Linked DNA regions of Homo sapiens: regions 2 and 3 are each linked to region 1. Evidence: fine-mapped expression QTL. Tissue or cell type: whole blood. Region 1 holds a variant in brackets; each other region holds the start of a gene. All regions are shown on one strand. Distances are from middle to middle.

What was found. PIP is the estimated chance that this variant, and not a neighbour inherited with it, causes the effect.
Region 2: it holds the start of TRIM8, and the variant in region 1 is fine-mapped to the expression of TRIM8 in whole blood (INTERVAL, PIP above 0.99).
Region 3: ARL3 starts here. The variant in region 1 is fine-mapped to the expression of ARL3 in whole blood (INTERVAL, PIP above 0.99).

What each region holds. Positions count from the first base shown.
Region 1 is chr10:102,672,013-102,680,186 of GRCh38, forward strand. It overlaps ARL3 (ARF like GTPase 3), which reads right to left. Exons shown (of 6, transcript NM_004311.4): 6 at 1,719-4,929. The coding sequence ends at 4,882. Among named protein-coding and RNA genes, the nearest start is that of TRIM8, 32 kb to the left of the region's middle. RefSeq lists an enhancer at 1,793-2,342. The variant C/CT (reference allele first, on the strand shown) is at 4,250.
Region 2 is chr10:102,642,546-102,647,545 of GRCh38, forward strand. It overlaps TRIM8 (tripartite motif containing 8), which reads left to right and starts at 1,934. Exons shown (of 6, transcript NM_030912.3): 1 at 1,934-2,642. The coding sequence starts at 2,073. TRIM8-DT (TRIM8 divergent transcript) reads right to left here and starts at 644. Exons shown (of 1, transcript NR_186489.1): 1 at 247-644. RefSeq lists silencers at 1-263, 594-653, 924-1,023, 1,104-2,083, 3,369-3,585 and enhancers at 572-1,326, 1,327-2,082, 2,184-2,313, 3,094-3,193.
Region 3 is chr10:102,711,577-102,716,576 of GRCh38, forward strand. It overlaps ARL3 (ARF like GTPase 3), which reads right to left and starts at 2,821. Exons shown (of 6, transcript NM_004311.4): 1 at 2,697-2,821. The coding sequence starts at 2,699. It overlaps SFXN2 (sideroflexin 2), which reads left to right and starts at 3,060. Exons shown (of 12, transcript NM_178858.6): 1 at 3,060-3,105. RefSeq lists silencers at 2,481-2,580, 2,621-2,670, 2,738-3,132, 2,951-3,100 and enhancers at 2,886-3,462, 3,463-4,038.

The DNA.
Region 1 (8,174 bases):
GGGATATACTTGAATTAAAAACTATTCATTGTTTATCTGAAATTCAAGTTTAACTGAATGTTCTGTAATGTATCTGGCAACCCTAATTCTTCTTTCTCCTGCTTCCAGCTACCAGCTAGTTCTGCCCACAGCTTGCTCTTTAAAGGCCGGGCGCAGTGGCCCACGCCTGTAATCCCAGCACTTTGGGAGGCCGAGGTGGGCAGATCACGAGGTCAGGAGATTGAGACCATCCTGGCTAACACGGTGAAACCCCATCTCTACTAAAAATACAAAAAAACCCCAAAAGTTAGCCGGCGTGGTGACAGACGCCTGTAGTCCCAGCTACTAGGGAGGCTGAGGTGGGAGAATGGCATGAACCCGGGAGGCGGAGCTTGCAGTGAGCTGAGATTGCGCCACTGCACTCCAGCCTGGGCGACAGAGCGAGACTGTCTCAAAAAAAAAAAAAAAAAATTAGCCAGACATGGTGGTACATGCCTCTAGTCCCAGCCACTTGGGAGGCTGAGTTGGGAGGATGGCCTGAGCCCAGGAGGTTGAGGCTGCAGTGAGTTGTGACTGTGCCACTGCACTCCAGCCTGGGTGACAGAGCGAAGTCCTGTCTCAAAAACACAAAACACACACACACACACACAAATGGTGAGGCCCTTTGGGACCAGCTGTGCTGCTGTGTCTCTAGCCTGCTGAAGGGACAACGAACTCTTCTGCTCCAGAGGGCAGAGCCCGGGACAGCTGCCAACTCTGCACCTTCCATGTAACACTGGGCAGGTCTGTTCCCTCTCGGAACCCTCTGTAAATGGAAGATCCAGTATTAGGTACTATGTAACTGCAAGTCTCCCTGAAGGCCCTAACTTTGCTAATTATTTCTTCTCCCTTTTTCCTGTCTGTTGGGCTGGACTTGGCCAAGGATGAAACCCAGTCTATGGTTGTGCTGTGTGAGCAGAGGACACCCAACACCTGGGGCAGGGAACCCAGGGGAGCAGTGCTTGTCAGAGGCTGAGGGGAGGAGGCTGGGCAGAAGTAGCACTCAGAGGCTGGGGGGGCTGAGGCTGCTGGGAGATGAGCCATTGACAAATTTTTTTTTTTTTTTTTTTTTTGCAATGGAGTTTTCTCCTGTTGCCCAGGCTGGAGTGCAATGGCACGATCTCAGCTCACTGCAACCTCTGACTCCTGGGTTCAAGCAATTCTCCTGCCTCAGCCTCCCAAGCAGCTGGGATTACAGGCACGTGCCACCACGCCCGGCTAATTTTGTATTTTTAGTAGAGACGGGATTTCACCATGTTGGTCAGGCTCGTCTTGAACTCCTGACTTCAGGAGATCTACCTGCCTTGGCCTCTGAAAGTGCTGGGATTACAGGCGTGATCCGGCCTTGCCATTGACTGTTTTTGTTCTCCAGAGGCGGCAGCTTGCTGAGCATTGAGACCCAGGCTCCAGGCCCCACCTGCACTTAAAGGCTCTGTGATTTCAGGCAAATTCCTTAACTGGGGCAAATGTCTCAATGTCCTCTGCTGCAAAGGGGGACTAATGCTCACCACGATGTATCTGAAGTGCCCGGCACGTAGGAGGGGCTTAATGAAGGGCTATTATTGCTATTGTTGGTATCCTATTTTATATATATATCCTTCTGGAAAAAACCTCTTGAAGAAAGCTAACCCCTGAAAGGACAAACACATTTCAGGCCCTCTCTGAGCTTCAGCAAAGAACACAACACATTCCAGGCTGCCTTCGTTCCAGCTAAATTTTATTTGTCGGATTTTTGACAGACGTCTAAATTATACATTGAGTTTTCCACATGACCAAACACCACATCTCTTCCTTTGATTATCATTTTCAAAAGGGATTATAAAAAAAGAACCTTTTGATGGATCAGACTGAACCCTGAAACCACATGGAGTGCAGAGCTAAAAATAAAAGGAAGTAAGAACTGGTCCCCGAGAAGGAAAGGAAAGGGAAATCAAAGCAAACTCTGACGGGAATGGAGAGACGAGTCCTGGTGAGGGTGACATGGTGTCACCCTCCAGGCCAGGCCGGATAAGGAGCGGCCAACAGTGAGGGTGGGGCGCAGAGTGGCACAAAAATAGCCACTACTTTAGTCCAGAGGGGAATAAAGAAATTTGTCAAAAGCAAGGAGAGAGAAGTGGAGACGGAGGGAGGGAGGAAGGAAGGGGGCAGGACCATGTCCTCCCAGCAGCCGTGGGAGCTGCGGACTCCTTTAACCCTGGCACATTTCTAACCGCCGGCATAATCGCTGACTTTCAGCTGTGCACCGACATGTTCCCCAGCTCAGCCCACATCAATGACACCCTTGTTTCCATAGTAACCAAGGGAGAGTGAAGGGGAAAGGGTGTGTTGCACTGGGTGCAGGGAATCCAGCCAAAAGCAGCCACACGGGGTAGGTCGGGAGGAGGGGAGGACTCGAGTTTTTCCCACAACTGGCTTGAGCACATATCACGAGCACCCCCCAGGCCTTGCCTGCCCTCCGGCCCCCAGCCCTCTCCCCCGCACATTCAGATGCAATTGTGCGCAGGGCAAAAGTCTCGCTAAGACTCACTGGGGACAGGAGGAGGGGAAAAGGGGTCTTCCCTTTCCAGCTTCAAATTCTGTCTTCTGGTCAGGGGGCAGGAGTGGGCAGGGAAGAGGCAAGAGGGCTTTAAAAAGTATTTTGTTTTTAAATGGGAGCTTTCAAACTCTGCCTTTTTCAGGCTTCTCTCATCTACCCCAGAGCCCCAGGAGGGTTCAAAAGGGCTCAAAGGGAAGATGAAAGCGTGTGACATCTGCAGTGTCTCTGTGTCTCTGCAGCTGAGAGCAAATCAGAACATTTACAGAGGCCGTTATCAGAGGAGTGGCTTCTGCCTGCTAGGAGAGGCCTTGGGATGGCTCTTTAAAACAGTCCCCTAAGTTGGTGGTAAAAGAACAAAAATATTTTACAGACCCTCCAATGCCAAAGTTCCATACTGCAGTGTTCCAAAATTGCAGACCTCCAAGCAGGCATTTTGCCCCTCAGATAACTTGTCCCTGCTGAACTATTCGGAAGAAAAAACAATTTGCAAGTGCTAGAGCCACATTTGCAGCCTGGTAGAAGGGGGATTTCTGATTCCTTATAATTCTGTGTTGCCTCTGTAAGGGAGAGCTTGGGTGAGCCAGAGAAGCCAGTGGAGGAGGCTGCAGAGAGCAGCTAGCTCTGAGGTTAAAAAAACCCCTCACTTTCTTTTGTTTTGCAAGTCCTTACAGGTCTGTCCACAGCAACTCTGGGGCACCTTTTCACGGCTGGCTTTGTTAATGACTTTCATGTCAGATCGCTTTTGAAGCTGGCTATGCCTCAGTCTCTGCTGCACTCTTAGCCAGAAGCAGCTGGGTATTGAGGGCCAGGGGCTGCAGCGGCCCCTTCAGTCTGCTCACACGCCCTGATGGGCTTGGGAAGGGCCACCTCCCAGGATGAGAAGGCAGCTGGCCCCCAGGGACCCACCAGTCACTGGACAGTCTCTTATTCATTCTCTGAAAACCCCTGAGCTCAGGCACCAGAACAGAGTTTAATTCAGGAGCCGGGCAATGCTCTGGCCTGTTTCCCCATGTTTGAAGCTGAGGATTTCTGAGGTTCAGGGAAACAAGCTCGTTTTGCAACGAGGGGCAGGAGAAATGTTCTGCTATTCCTCTCCAATCAATCAACAGAGGACGGACATTCTGCTGCAGAGAGGCAGAGGAGCCCAGCAGCTGGGGTGACTCTTGATTCCTTGGACACGACCCCTGCAGTCACACACACACCCATGTCCTCCCCAGCAGCAAACCCTCTCCATCCAGGAGCATCCCACACCACCAAGTTGCCAGCACTGTAAAAATTGATCTAAAAATCGATCTGCCTGGCTTTTCTCAGTGGAGCAGGTTCATGGTAAAGCTGCATTTATTTCTAAAATCTGATAGCAGCGGCCTATTGTGATCGTTTAAACACAGAATTCTTTGAGCTTTAGAAATCCTGTCTATAGGACGGCCGTGGAGAAGCCAGCTAATCTCAGAGTCGGCTGCTCACTGCTCCACTGAGCTGGAGAAAGCCTGTTTACGCTAGCCTGAGCCCTCGATGTGAGAGCTTTTTAAGGACCTTGTAATTTTTCTGGAATTAAACCTCCCACCTCTCCTTACATTCCAGATGTCATTACAGTCAAAAGTCATAAGAATTTGCTTCTCTGTGTGGCTGGCTGGGGCAGAGGCAGGGGTGGGTGGGATGGGGTATGTTTCTGTAGTGACTTGTCTGCAAGAAAGA[C/CT]TTTTTTTTTTTTTTCTGTCCAAAGAGTGAGGATTACATACGTAGTCTCCGACCTGCAAGACGATGAGATGGTTTAATTATCTGCCTTTTCTCCCCCCACCCCCACCCAGCAGCTTCCTGTCGGACAGACTGAAGCCTGGCTGGGCTAGTGACGGTAAAAATCACTGACAGCACCAGCAAACACTGTCTGTGGTTTCAAAACCATGGAGGGAATGCAAGGGACGGGTCAGTAAATAAATGAACTCAGCAAAGCTGCTTCTTCCTCTTTTTCTTTTTCTTTTTTTTTTTTTGAGAGGAAAAAAAAGCCCACTGGAATTGTCTAAACTGCAATGCAATCTCTTGCTCATTTAAAAGATCTCATTTTCTAATCATGTGCTTTGAGACATTTAATACTATTTCAATTATGCAGAGGAAATAATATAATTCCTTTATTTGAAAAATGATACTGAACCTCAGAGATCAGTTAAATCTACTGCTGGAATGGGGATTCTTTCTAAACCGTGTTGTTCCCTCTCTTCAAACAGCTGGAGCTGTACACAGATGGAAAAACATTTGGTCAGAAAGCAGCAAATTAGTGTTTTTCAGGACCGAATTCGGCTCCCGCAGCTCCTGCATCTCCATTCGTCTAGATTTTATTTCTTCTTTGCATTGACATTTTTGCAGACCCAGTTCATGCCATCCTTTGAGGGAAATGGGCAGAGAAAGGCAGTGTTAGTTATAAGAAAAGCACCACACACTCTAGCCTGGAGGGGCGGGCAGTGGGGGTCCCAGGCCCTCCCTCCCAGACCGCCAGCTTTAGGGAGTTTGCTTGGCTCAGGGGCCCACCTGGGTGACCAGGGACAGTGACCTCCCAGGAGGAGGAGGAGGGAGGTCTCTGAGAGCACAAGAGGGCGATGGGAGGGGGATGCCCAGCGCCTGAACTTGAGATGGGTCCTCAGGAACTCCCTCTGAAAAAATAAACACATCTGCCTGCATCCAAAGCCTGACTGAAGAGCTATCAGGAAAGATTCCAGCCATTTTTGGCTTTTTCTAAAAGGTGACCTTTGCCAGGGCATTAAATTCAATAAGCCACCCTTTTGGTGCCCCATGTGTTTACAGTGTGACAGTGTACACTTGGGTTAAATTAAATTTCTTTTTGGAAAAACAAACCTACTGCAGTGAGTGTTGCGAGGCACACACCAGGGCGATGTGCATTTACTTCTCTTCCTGCAGCACTCCAGATAGGTTTAAAAGGGTCTGGCCCGCTTCTTATAGCTTTAAGCACCAGCATCCAGAGGGACTGGGGAGAAGGTTCCCTTAAAGGCACAATGACCTTGAAAGCGCCCTCTCTTAGAAGGCTGAAGAGGGACCAAGGTAAAAATCACACAATGCCTACAGCTACCTGGCAGGCAGCATAATTCCTACGGATGCCAGGCCTGTCAGAGGTGAACTCCTTCCCAACCCCCTTTGGAGCCAAACCTGGACACTCTCCCCTTCCCTAGAGTCTCCCCAACCTTCAAGAGTGTGTGGAGTTCCCTCAGAAGCCCTGAACAAAATCCAAGGCAGCTGCTGCCATGAGTCCTTCCCCTTGCATCTGTAACAGAGGCTCACGGAGGTCCCAGCTACATCTGCACACATCAGCCATACTGGACATGCCACCGAGTCCCACATTTCCTGTGGCCATGGATCTAGCTGCCGAACCTGAACAGCTGAGACAGCTTACAGTAATAAATATCAGCTGACACCCTTGGCCATTCGGAACATTAATCCCATAAACAATACATCACTGCAAAAAAACAACCAGCAGGCATCCTCTCTCCTGGCTCATCTGACCGTCACCTGAATTTACAGTGATTACAACTCTGCCAGTTGCTGTCAGTGCACTTGGGCAGCAGAACTAGATAATCTGACGGCTGTCCCAGAGCCGACATCTGACCTTTGCCAAGATGAGGCCGGTGGCGCCGAAAGCCCGAAGGTGGACAGCACCTGGCAGCAGCAGGGGGAAGGGCAGAGGAATGCCGAGGTGGGAGAAATGAGGACTCCAAACGCATCTCTAATTACAATGGGGTCAGCTACTTACTCTGAGAAGCTAAGGCCAATTTTAAGACCATTTTATGAAAAGGATTAATTTAAAGAGAAGCATGTTTAATTTTAGTAGCTAATTGGTTTCCAGGAAAAAAAAAAGATCACCTGTCAAGAGACAAAAAAGATTTTACAAATAAAAGAGGGATGAATAAGATAAGCATCTTCTCTCGCCTGGGAAGCTGAATAGCTCAGCACTTACATAGCACTTTCCACCTTCAGGGGCTCACACAAACACTCAAAGGTGGGCACCTCAACACTCTCTCCTCTACGGAGGCTCGCACTCAAACCATCTTCTCAGAGAAATCAAGGACAGTGTGCCCACACTATGTGAATAGCGCTTTGCCTTTTCCTTGCTTTATGGCTGATTAAGGAGAGATTATTGCATATAACTGAACATGAATGCAGGCAAAGAGATAGGAAAAATATTTACTCAGCTGCAGGAGCCCAAAGCAGAAGGTGGAGGGTGTGGGGTGGTTTTATGCCGGGTCTCTGTTATGGAGGCAAAGGAGGGTTCAAACGGCAGAGCCCTGCTGAGGGACAGTGTCTGGTGTCTCCAGGTGCCTGTGAGGGCCAGCAGTGGTGAAGCCCTTCTAGCCACTGTCCTGCCAACAGAGGGCGCACAGAGGCCAGTCCCTGCCAGCTGACCCCCGGCCTGGGCCCCTGCAGCTGCCGCTGCAACCCTGAGTGTGGGAAGCACAGGGAGCGTAAACAGGGGACCGAGCCCTGTGGCTGCCCTGGGCCCGGGAGGCCCCTCTAATCTGAAGCGGCTAGTGCTTGGGGAGTGGCATCTTTCTTGTGCTGGGCAGAAGAGAACTGGGCTGGAGGTGGGAGGGGAGGGAAGGGGAGGCATTGGCCAACAATGGTACCTCCTCAATCACGTGGCCATGGATCTAGCTGGGGCAAGCTTTGTCAATCACATCAGGGCAAGCTTTGTCAAGCTGCCTCCTGGAAAGGAAAGGCAATGGTGGTGCCCAAGCTCCCCTAGGGGAGGCTCCCATCAGACTTGCTGGAGATTATATTCCCAGAACCTAACATGATGTCTAGCCCACAGCCCACTTAATTCACATCTTTTAAGTCAATCCTTGTAGAAGCCTGCAAAGTAGGTGCTGGTGTTATTTCTCTATCACAGCTGAGGAGATGAAGGCACAGGACAGAGCAGGGCAATGGCAAGCTGTGGTGCCCAGCGTGGTGCTCCAGAGCTGCTTACCAGTTCTCCACGGATGTGGGTACCTGCCGGGTGAAGGGTTCTGCCCCAAGCTTAAAGAGGAGCTGGGAAGCACCCTGAAGATGGGAAAAGGAGGAATTCTGGTTTTATCCTCCTTGTGACTTCCGCTAAAAACAGGGGCCTGAGACTGGAGTAGCCCCAGCCAAGCCTCCCTGCAGCTCCGATAGTGCCAGAGGTTGTTATGGGCCATTCAGTTCTCAAGATTCCTGGGCTGTGGGTATCTGTATATGCAGAGGCCTGGTTATCTGCCTGGCTGCACAATCCTCACATATTAACCATCCACCCAGACCACCTCCTCCAGTGGAAATGCTACATTTAGAGAAAACATACTTGCAAGAGGAGGAACCTTCTGCTTCTTATGTTTAAATAAATGTTCCATACCACTCTTGCTTTCACCTGGCAAGGAAGGCTTTTTTTTTGAGACGGAGTCTTGCTCTGTCGCCCAGGCTGGAGTGCAGTGGCATGATCTCGACTCGCTGCAAGCTCCGCCTCATGCCATTCTCCTGCCTCAGCCTCCCAAGTAGCTGGGACTACAGGCGCCCGCCACCATGCCCGACTAATATTTTTGTATTTTTAGTAGAGACAGCGTTTCACCATGTTAGCCAGGATGGTCTCGATCTCCTGATCTTGTGATCC
Region 2 (5,000 bases), 31 kb before region 1:
CCCCGCTCTGCTCCGAACCCATTGTATACGGCCGGCTGCGGACTCCCAGGCCGGGCCGTGGCGGGGGCCCCGGGACCCCCGAGTGCCCCTCCGGCTGGTCCCGCGGGCCGCGGCATCTCCGCCGCCGCCTTCCTCGCGGCGGCGGCGAGGGCGCCCTTTCCTCCCCGCGCGGGTGACGGGGACGCACCCCCACCCCGGGGCGCCCCTTCGCGGGGGGAGAGCCGGGCCCGAGCAAGTCGAGGCAGGAAAGGGCCGCCACGGACTGCCCGGCCCGCCGATCGTTTTTATTATCGAGATTATTATTAAAAGGGGGCGGGGACCCCAGGACGCGGGGGAGGGGCTGGATACGCAGGTATTTTTATTAAACAGATTATTCCTGAAATAATAATACGCGCAAGATGGCTGAAGGTGGCTGTGATGAGAGTGTTGGGGTTGGGATTTTTTTCTTCCTGTTTTTTCTTTTTTGATCTGAGGATAAAGCTCTGAGGCGACAGCGGCTGCGGAGACCCTGCCCGAAGCGCCCTCCCCTCCCTTGAGAAGCCGCGGGCAGACAGACGGACCTCGGACCGAGCAACGGGTGCGGGCCCGCCCCGGACGCGTCGCCTGGGCAGCAGCCGGGGACCGCGGGCTCTCGCCTTTCTGCCGACTTCTTCCAATTCTCATCTTCTTTTATTTTTTGGACAGGACCGGGGTGGGTGGAGCAGAGGTGGAGAGAAATCGGGACTTGGCATTTTCTCCCTCTCTCTCTCCTAATTTGTTGGAGGCCGCCAGCCCTCCCCTTGGAAAAAAAAAAATCCCACCAAAAAAAAAAAAAAAAGAATCAGGAGCGAGAGGACGCCGCGGGGCCCTCAGCGAGCGCGCCCAGACCCCGGCCGCCGCCGCGGAGCCCAAGATGGCTGGGCGCTGAGGGTGGCGGCTCGGCCTGGCCCCGCCGCCGCAGGCTGGCTCCGACCGCAGCCCCGAGCCTTCCAGGCCCCAGCAGAGGCCGAGAAGAAAAGAAAGTGGGGAGGAGGGGGCCGGGGGGGCGAAGGGGGAGGGCCGGGGGAGGGGAGGGGAGGGCCGGGAGCCGAGCCTCCTGTTCATTAGCAGTTGAGAAAAATTCCTTTCTAGTTTGATCAATCCTTGTTTTCCTCGGCAGAGCCCGGGCGCCCGCCCAGCGCGGAGACGGGCGCGCGGGGTCTCTCCGCGGCGGGGGCGCCGGGCCTCGGGGGAGCGCAGAAGTAGCCGCCCGGGGGTCAGGCCGGAGCGCCGCCGGGGCTTCTCCCTCCCTCCCTCGCCGGTTGCCTTTTTTTCCACTTCTCTCCCTCCCCCTTCCGTTTCTATTTGTGAAGGGAGGAGGAAGGCAGAGGCGGGCTGGTGTCTCTGGCCGGGGACTGGAATTTCATCTGAATGACTGCCCCTGCGCGCACGCAGCGCCCCGGAGTCGGCCCGCCCGCGCCCCGCAGCCCGCGCCCGGCCAGCCAGCCGGGGGACGCCTGCACCGTGGCCCGGGGACCGCCGGCCTGCCCCTCCCGCCCCGTCCGGATCTAGCAGCCCTCGGCGCGGCCGCCCTCGCCTCCTGGCCCCGCAGACCCCGGGCTCCGGCCCCTGCGAGGGAGGTGCGGCGCCGACGAGCCAGGCAGGAGCCGCCGCTGCCGCCGCCGCCGGAAGAAGTGTGCTGCTCCCAAGCTCCGTCTGCCGCGGGGCGCGCCCCAATGTCAGCCGCGGGGACGAGCGCAGGCCGCGGGCCGCCACTGCCCTAGCCGCGCCGACGGGGAGGCGGCCTCTTATATGGAATTTGGACCCCGGCGCTCCCCTCCAAGGCTGGAGTCCCGGCCGCGGCCCTGGCGCAGTCCGCCGCCTCCCGCTAGGCGCTCGGGAGGAGGAGGAGACGCAGCCCGCTGCGCGCGCGGCGTGAGGACCGCGGCTCCCTCCTCCGGGGGGCGGGCACGCGGAAGGCGCTGCTGACTGAGCGACCGTCGGGGCCGGCTGGGGCCGGAGCTCGGGGCTCGGTGGGCCTACAGCGGCTCCGGACGGACCCCCGGGGCTGGGGAGTCGGGGAGGCCTGCCCCGGCCCCCTGCCCGCGGCCGCCATGGCGGAGAATTGGAAGAACTGCTTCGAGGAGGAGCTCATCTGCCCTATCTGCCTGCACGTTTTCGTGGAGCCAGTGCAGCTGCCGTGCAAACACAACTTCTGCCGGGGCTGCATCGGCGAGGCGTGGGCCAAGGACAGCGGCCTCGTACGCTGCCCAGAGTGCAACCAGGCCTACAACCAGAAGCCGGGCCTGGAGAAGAACCTGAAGCTCACCAACATCGTGGAGAAGTTCAATGCCCTGCACGTGGAGAAGCCGCCGGCGGCGCTGCACTGCGTGTTCTGCCGCCGCGGCCCCCCGCTGCCCGCGCAGAAGGTCTGCCTGCGCTGCGAGGCGCCCTGCTGCCAGTCCCACGTGCAGACGCACCTGCAGCAGCCCTCCACCGCCCGCGGGCACCTCCTGGTGGAGGCGGACGACGTGCGGGCCTGGAGCTGCCCGCAGCACAACGCCTACCGCCTCTACCACTGCGAGGCCGAGCAGGTGGCCGTGTGCCAGTACTGCTGCTACTACAGCGGCGCGCATCAGGGACACTCGGTGTGCGACGTGGAGATCCGAAGGAATGAAATCCGGGCAAGTACCCTACGCGCGCGCGCGCACACACACACACACAGACACACAGTCCCTTCCTCTCTCCCGCCCCGGGACCACCCATCCCGACAGGCTGACTCTTGTGACATCAGGCCAGTGGCCCCTGGCCAAACTCTTCTCTGAAAGTTTGGGGACAGGGTCCTGGGAAGAAGGGCCCCGGGTCGCTACTTGGTACATTCTCGCACCTGTGCGCACAGGGTCCGTCTTCTGAGTGCTTTATGGGATTGGGGTGTGGGACCGTCAGGGGTAGAGTCTGGGTGTTGCTTTTCTGTGGTGCGCAGCTCCCTCCCCCAGTCTTGTTGCTGTAGGCCCTACGGGAAGTCACCGAGGCAGTGACCCCGGTCCTGCCTCTCCAGCTGCTGTTTATGTAATGAGTGTCCCGGTGCCGCTGCTGTGGCTGACATGATCCATGATGCTGGCATACCAATGAGGAAGTAAACAAAAGCAGCCATGTTAGTTTTCAGCGCTATTGGAAACACACTGGGGGGGGAGTGGGGGGAGTTTCCAGAGGGAGAGCAGAACTCCGGCCGTCTCTCTGGACAGGGCCTGGGCAGCCAGCGAGGCCCCGACAGCGGCTCCGCTATTTGGATTCCTCCCGAGAGCCGGCTCTCCCTGTGTGAGAATCGCTGCCCTGTGTGCCTGTGTGTCGCACGGGCCGCATGAACAAGCCTTCAAGTATCTGTCTTCATCATCCTGGCCCTTTCGCCTAGCACAGCCCTCTCGCCGCCCTCCCACATTTGGGGAGGGGAAGTGGAAGACGGAAAAAGAATCCTGTGGGTTTAAGGTTGAGCCGCCTTGAAATCTGGTTTCAGGCAGCTGGCTCCCCTGGGCTGCCGGCTGGGTGATTACGGAACCGCGTCCCCTCCCATTGTATACACCCTGCGGCCGCGGCCAATGTCAAACCGCCTCCCCCCTCAGGCCTCTGGGCCTGGTTTTGGAGCTGGACTGAGGCAATACTTCCGTCCCCTTCAGTGGAGGGGGCTCCTCCTAGGTCCCTCCCCAGTCCTCTGGCTTTCAGGGTTGAGTCATACCAAAATGAAGGGGTTGGCCTGACACCGAGGAGTCCTCTCTGAAGCCCCACCTTGGGGCCTGGGGCCTGGGTGTGATATCTGGGGGCTAGGCTGCACTCTGGTGGGACTGGGAGTGTCTCTGGGTGGGGATCCCTGGAGGTTAGTGGAGGCCAGTGCGGAGGCTGGCTATGAGGAAGCTCTGTTCAGGGCATGATTGGAGATGGGGCTGTTTCCTGTGTGGGGGGACCAGTCAGAATGAGTCACTGTTTAGCAATTAAAAAACATACACATACAACCAACAAAAGGCAGGAGGGCCACCACAGGCTGGGGCGGGGGCAGCAAATACGATTTGCTGTATAATTAGTTTCCAATCGGATGGACTAGCCCTGGGTTTGTGTGCCAGGATAGGCCTCTGGTTTCTTAAAGGAAGTGTGTCCTCCACCCCCTGTGTCCTCCATCCCCGTTCAGGGCAGGCACAGCCCACACTTTCCCCAGTATTGGGAAGCTGCTGCTATTAATAAAGATGGAAGGGCTGGGGGAGGAGGCCGGGAAAAGTGCAGAGGCAGGAGAAAGGAGGGCTGTCCAGTTCTGTCCTGGGATTGGCAGTGGAAAATGAGAGGAGGGGAAAGGAGATGTGGCTGAAAGGAACAGGGGAGGGGCAGCAACCTGGGCGATGGGCGGATGCCTGCCCGCACCCACAGTGCTGCTGTAGCTGGTCTGAGTTCTAGGGATGTCTTTAATTGGGGTGGGGGAGAAAACGTCATTATACCTGACTTGGTGTAGGAGGATAGCTTTAGGTGTCTGTGTTTTTGAATGTCTTTGAGACTGTGTGCTTCGCCCTCCAATGCACCTGTCTCCTGTCTCTACAGTTCAGGGCACAGGCAGGGGTGGGTGGGTGGCATGTGCATGCAGAGTATTCCCTGGGGTGCCCCCCAGCAGGCCCCTCATTTCCAGACTCGTGGATTGGATGGAAGCAGGCACTGAACTTTGTCGGCAACTCCGCAGGGTGTGTGTGTGCGTGTGTGCGTGTGTGTGCGTGCGCGTGCATGCGCGTGCTTTCTTGTGCCTGGTGTGGGCAGGCTCAGAAGTAGTGGGTTGCATCAGGGCCAGATGTGCAATTCTGTGCGTTCAGCAGCTGTGCCCTGCAGTGGCAGCCTGAGCCTCATCCTTCTCCAGGTTCCCCCTCCCCAGGCCCCTGATTCTTTCTGGTGCCCCAGGCCACTGGGGTTGGAAACCCTTCAGTAGCCCAGTGTCACTCAAGTATGAGTTTGACTTATTGAATGTGGAGGAATAGGGGCCCTGCCTGCCCTCCCAGGAGGGAGAGGAGGGG
Region 3 (5,000 bases), 38 kb after region 1:
CCGTCTCTACTAAAAACACACACACACAAAATTAGCCGGGCGTGGTGGCGGGCGCCCATAGTCCCATCTGCTGCGGAGGCTAAGGCAGGAGAATGGCGTGAACCCGGGAGGCGGAGCTTGCAGTGAACGGAGATCGCGCCACTGCACTCCAGTCTGGGTGACAGAGCAAGACTCCGTCTCAAAAAAAGAAAAAAAAAAGAAGAAAACAGGAACAATACTTACATCTCAAGAGATGATGCTATGAGGATGAAATGAGGTCATGTATGTAAAGCATGACACATAACAGCCACTGAAAAGACTACCCTCGTGTTTTGTTTATTTTTTTAAAATAATTTTTCACGGGCCATTTTCTAACCAGAAAACATAAGTAACTGTTGGGAACAATCTTCAAATGTTGAACATGCTTGAGAACGACCACAAGCTCCATATATGTAGAAAGTGCTCCATAAATAATTACTGAATGAAGGAATCATATGTTAAATATAAGTGGTTAGTTACGTGCTAAAATTACTGTCATTTTAGTATTTTAGTAATTCATCAAGAACCTGGCACTGTAAAGCAGGGGTAAAATAGCTGACTCTAAATGTTCAGAGAAACCCATATTTGGGTTTTTGCCACAGTTACCCAAATTTGAAAAAAAATATGTATTTGTCACAGCTGAAGTTTAAAACAAAAACCAAAAAAACCTTGGGGTTCACGCTTCAGTTGTACAGTTAACCATGGGGGCTCATGGGATACCAGATGGGATACACTTAAGTCACACGACTGACTAAATTCAGTGTTTCACTTCAAGTTTTAAGAACAGCTCACGCTTGTGGAGATAGAAAAAAAATGTTTTTGGGAAACCAGATAAAGAATCCGGAATAATTTGTCTTAATTTCTTATTGTTCATCTTAGGAAAAAGGAAAAAAGAAAAACAAAATCTGTTTTCATCATTGAACACAACAGTTGTATACAACAGTGTTGTATATACACTGTAAATTTGTTGTATACTGTGCCAATTTGCACCTGGAAACATGGGCAGTGGTTAATTTACTGTGGCCTGTAATTATAAATTAAACAATCATGGATTACACAGTACACTTAATTGATCAACAAACTGGGAAAAGTTAGCCAACTCTCATGCACTTCTCATCCATAATGATGAATCTCAATCTCTGTTGGTTCGGCATGCCCTTTTCATTCCAATTCTAGCTATTTTCTGGGTAAATATTTATGTTTGTACTCATTTGTTGAGAAAAACTTTAACTTTAAAAGGACAGCTCACGTATAAATGATTAAGAAAAAGAAACAGTTGTAAAAATCTGTTTAGCCTGAGGTTAAAAAAAAACTGCAAGTGTAGCAAGTGTGAAATGTGATTGGCAACTTCAGATCAAATAACCCTACTTCTTTAACAATCTGACAATGTAAAATCAATTGAGTTTTTTTTTTCCTTTCTAAATCTACTCACTGGATAATCTGACCAAACATACATCTATTTTTTTTTTTCCTGGGCATCTAGTTTTTTTGTTTTTTTTTTTACTTCTTAAATCAACAGAAATGGCTCAACATTTCTAAAAGTCAAGAAAGGAACTAGGAAGAGAGTTGGAGCAGTGACTATAAGTTTGATGACAGGCTCTTTGCAGCCAACTAACCTGCTTTAAGTGTTCAAAATCAATTTTTCTTTGATAGCTCTAAAATTACTCAATTCCATTTTAACTCCCTCCAACTAACTGTACAGACATTAACAAGAAACAGAGTGTCAACGGTCAGATCTGTCACAACCATAATTTAGAATTTGGGAAAGCTTTAATTGGGACTGACAGAGAAAAGCCTTGCCCCGGATTGAAGTTCGATCTCCATTTTTAACTTCTCGTTCTTTTCAGTTTGGAGAACTCAAGCTAGGATTAAGATCTTTTGGTCCTGGTATGGTCACACGCAAGAGGAGACTGCAAAAGGTTTCGAAGGAAATTCTAGAGACGGAGCAGCTAATATGTCTTCATCAACATGGATTATGTATTGAATGAAAAATCGGTCATCACCAACAATCAGATCCTGCAAAACTCTCAGCAAATAACTAAATAATTCGGGACTGAGGAAGCGCACCCGCCACGCAGACACCAAGACGGCGTAAAATCCACCAGGCATCCCTTCCAAGCGGCACCCCTTTGTGTCGTGGGACTTACTTCCCTACCCCCCAGGGGCCCGCACAGCGCGAGAAGGAGGAGAGCTAGGCTACCATCTCCCCTGCTACCGCCAGGGCGACCTCAGAGCCAATGGGGCCGGCCTTCTCTCCGCTTCTGGCCGGGCTCCAGACGAACCCCACTTTACTGCAAAGCCGCGAGACCGATTGCCCGGGAAGTCTAAGCCTGCTAGCGAAAGCTGCTCTCCGCAGTTCCTGGGATCCGCCCTCACCCCTGTCCCCAGAGTAATGATGGAGCCCGGGCTCCGCACCCGGCCAGCCGCGCACTCTGCCAGCCCCTTCCCCAAGCCTCGGACCCGCTGCAAGCCCCGCCTTCCTCTCCAGGCCCAGGCCTCCCTCCAGGGCCCACCCTCGGGTCTCCCCGCCGACCCCCGAAATCAGTCCACAACCCAGATAGCAGGCTGAGCGACGTCCCATTCCCTCCTTGGCTTTAAGCGCAGTGCTCCGCCCTGGGCCTGGGGACGGGAGGGGGATAACCGGCCGGCTCCAAGGGGGCCCAGGCCCCCACACTCACCATCCTCCCGCCGAGTCCCTCCTCCTCCTCCTCCTCCTGCTGCCTCCCCCGTTACCAGGGGCAACTGCTGCGGCGCCGCCCCCGACGTCCCTCGCACGCACAGCTGAGGAGCTGAGCAGCAATACGGGGCGGGGTGCAGCTCCGCTTTCCCCAGAGTGCGCAAGTGCGCTAAGGCGCCCGCCCACGCAGTGGGCGGGCTACGGGAGCTGCAGAGGCCGCCGCCGGCTCGCCTGGACCAGGGAGTGGAGAAAGCCTGCCCACGTGGCTGGCGGGAGCCTCCCGGCCTGGGATTGGTCGAAAAGGAGGGGCGTGGGGCGGGCGTGGGGGCAGTTCCCCAGCCCAGGTCCTCCTCTCACCCGGGCCAGTTTTCAAGGCGGGCTGTAACTGGTGGCATTTGTCCCGGGACCAGGTAAGGGGCCTTGGGACAATGGCGCTCGCCCTGTCTACCTCCAATCCCCACATCTCGGGTGGGTGCTGAGATTGCTGTCCTGACTGCCCAGGCGGGGCTGCAGCGCGGGCTGGACTTCCACCTGCAGAAGCCACGTGGCGCGAAGTGCGCCCTGGGGCTGCAGATGGGCCCCTCTGCTCTGACCCCCATTGCCTAGGAGTGCCAGGCCGAGCGGCTGGGGCGTTACGAGCTGTCCGGGATGGGGGAGTACCGATGGGGGGAGGCCGTCTGTCGGAGGGCAAGAAGCAGCCTGGGGGCTGGCCCTGAGCCCTGAGGTGAGCTGAAAGCACAGGTGAAAGGCGTTTTGGGGATCGGCCCGGTTTTTGTTTTGACACAGGGTGTCGCTCTGTCGCCCGGGCCGGAGTGCGGTGGCGCGATCTCGGCTCACTGCAGCCTTTGCCTCACAGGCTTAAGCGATTCTCCCGCCTCAGACTCTCGAGTAGCTGGGATTGCAGGCGGGCGCCACCACGCCTGGATAATTTTTTGTATTTTGTTTTTGTAGAGACGGAGTTTCGCCATGTTGCCCAGGCTGGGCTCGAACTCCTGGGGTCAAGCCATCCGCCCGCCTAGGCCTCCCAAAGTGCTGAGACTACAGGTGTTCCAAAGTGGTGAGCCACTGTGCCCAGCCTCTGGCCGGTTTTGCTAAGCTGCTTTGGACAGGACCGCGTACCATCTGTAGTCCTGGAGGAGGCAAAAATGAGCCTGCATTTTTAGCCAAGGAAGAGCAAGTGGGACACTGGGGTGGGTTGGGAAGTGCTACCTCCCATCCCTTTCCCGATGCAGAGGACTATAAGAAGAGTTTACACAAACGTGCTAGGCCCTGTTCTAGACGCTGGAGACACAGCAGTGGACAAAATCAGCCCGTATGGAAATTACATCCTTCCTAATGAAATACATTTCATACCAAATTTCATTTTCACAACCCCTAGAAATTGGTAATTGCGGCCAGGCGCAGTGGCTCATGCCTATAATCCCAGCACTTTGAGAGGTGGAAGGGGAGGAAGGCTTGAGCCCAGGAGTTGGAGACCAGCCCGGGCAACACAGTAGGACCCTGCCTCTACAAAAAAAAATTTTTTTTAATTAGCCAGGTTCCGTGGCGCACTTGTAGTCCTAGCTACTCGGGAGGTTGAGGCTGGAGGATTGCTTGAGCCCAGGAGCTATTATCACATCACTGTACTCCAGCCTGGGTGAAAGAGCAAGACCCTGCCTCAAAAAAAAAAAAAAAAATGAAAACAAAAATCAACATCTGCTGCTTGCATACCTGCTTCAGATCCTTGGAGAGAAAAAGCAGTTCAGAGCCTTGACTAAGGAGGTGATGAATGGAGGTGATACAGGAGCACAAACCCCTATAATCTACTCATCTCCAGACTGTTGGCCCTTTTGTGAAAAAGGCAAGGGAGGTTGCTCTTTCTAAGTTGTCTGGTGCCTAACAGCCCACTTGCCTTGGAGTCAGACGAGTACCCATAAGCCTATACCTGGGCCTGCTCTTGTAATTATTACCCTCATTTTCCAGCTTGCTCTAGGCAGCCTTGACCTTAATCCTTGCCTGTCTCAGTGGTCTTTGTGTCTGACCTTCTGGGGTCTTTGGCTACCTTGATCTTCCTCTGATGTGAGTACCAGCGATGATGTTTCGTTTTTCTCCCTACCTGGGGCTACAAACAGTAATCTTGTGCACTTCTGCTTGTAAGAGGATACCTCAGAAGGAATTTGGAAGCTTGTTTTCTGATCTCTGATACCATTTGCCAGAGAAAATCTGCTCTTTCTGGGAAGGATGAGCATTACGTCAGAGGTGGCAGTAGTCTATTACTTTTTTTTTCTCTTTGTTTCCCTCTCTTTCTTTCCTTTTTTTTTTTTTT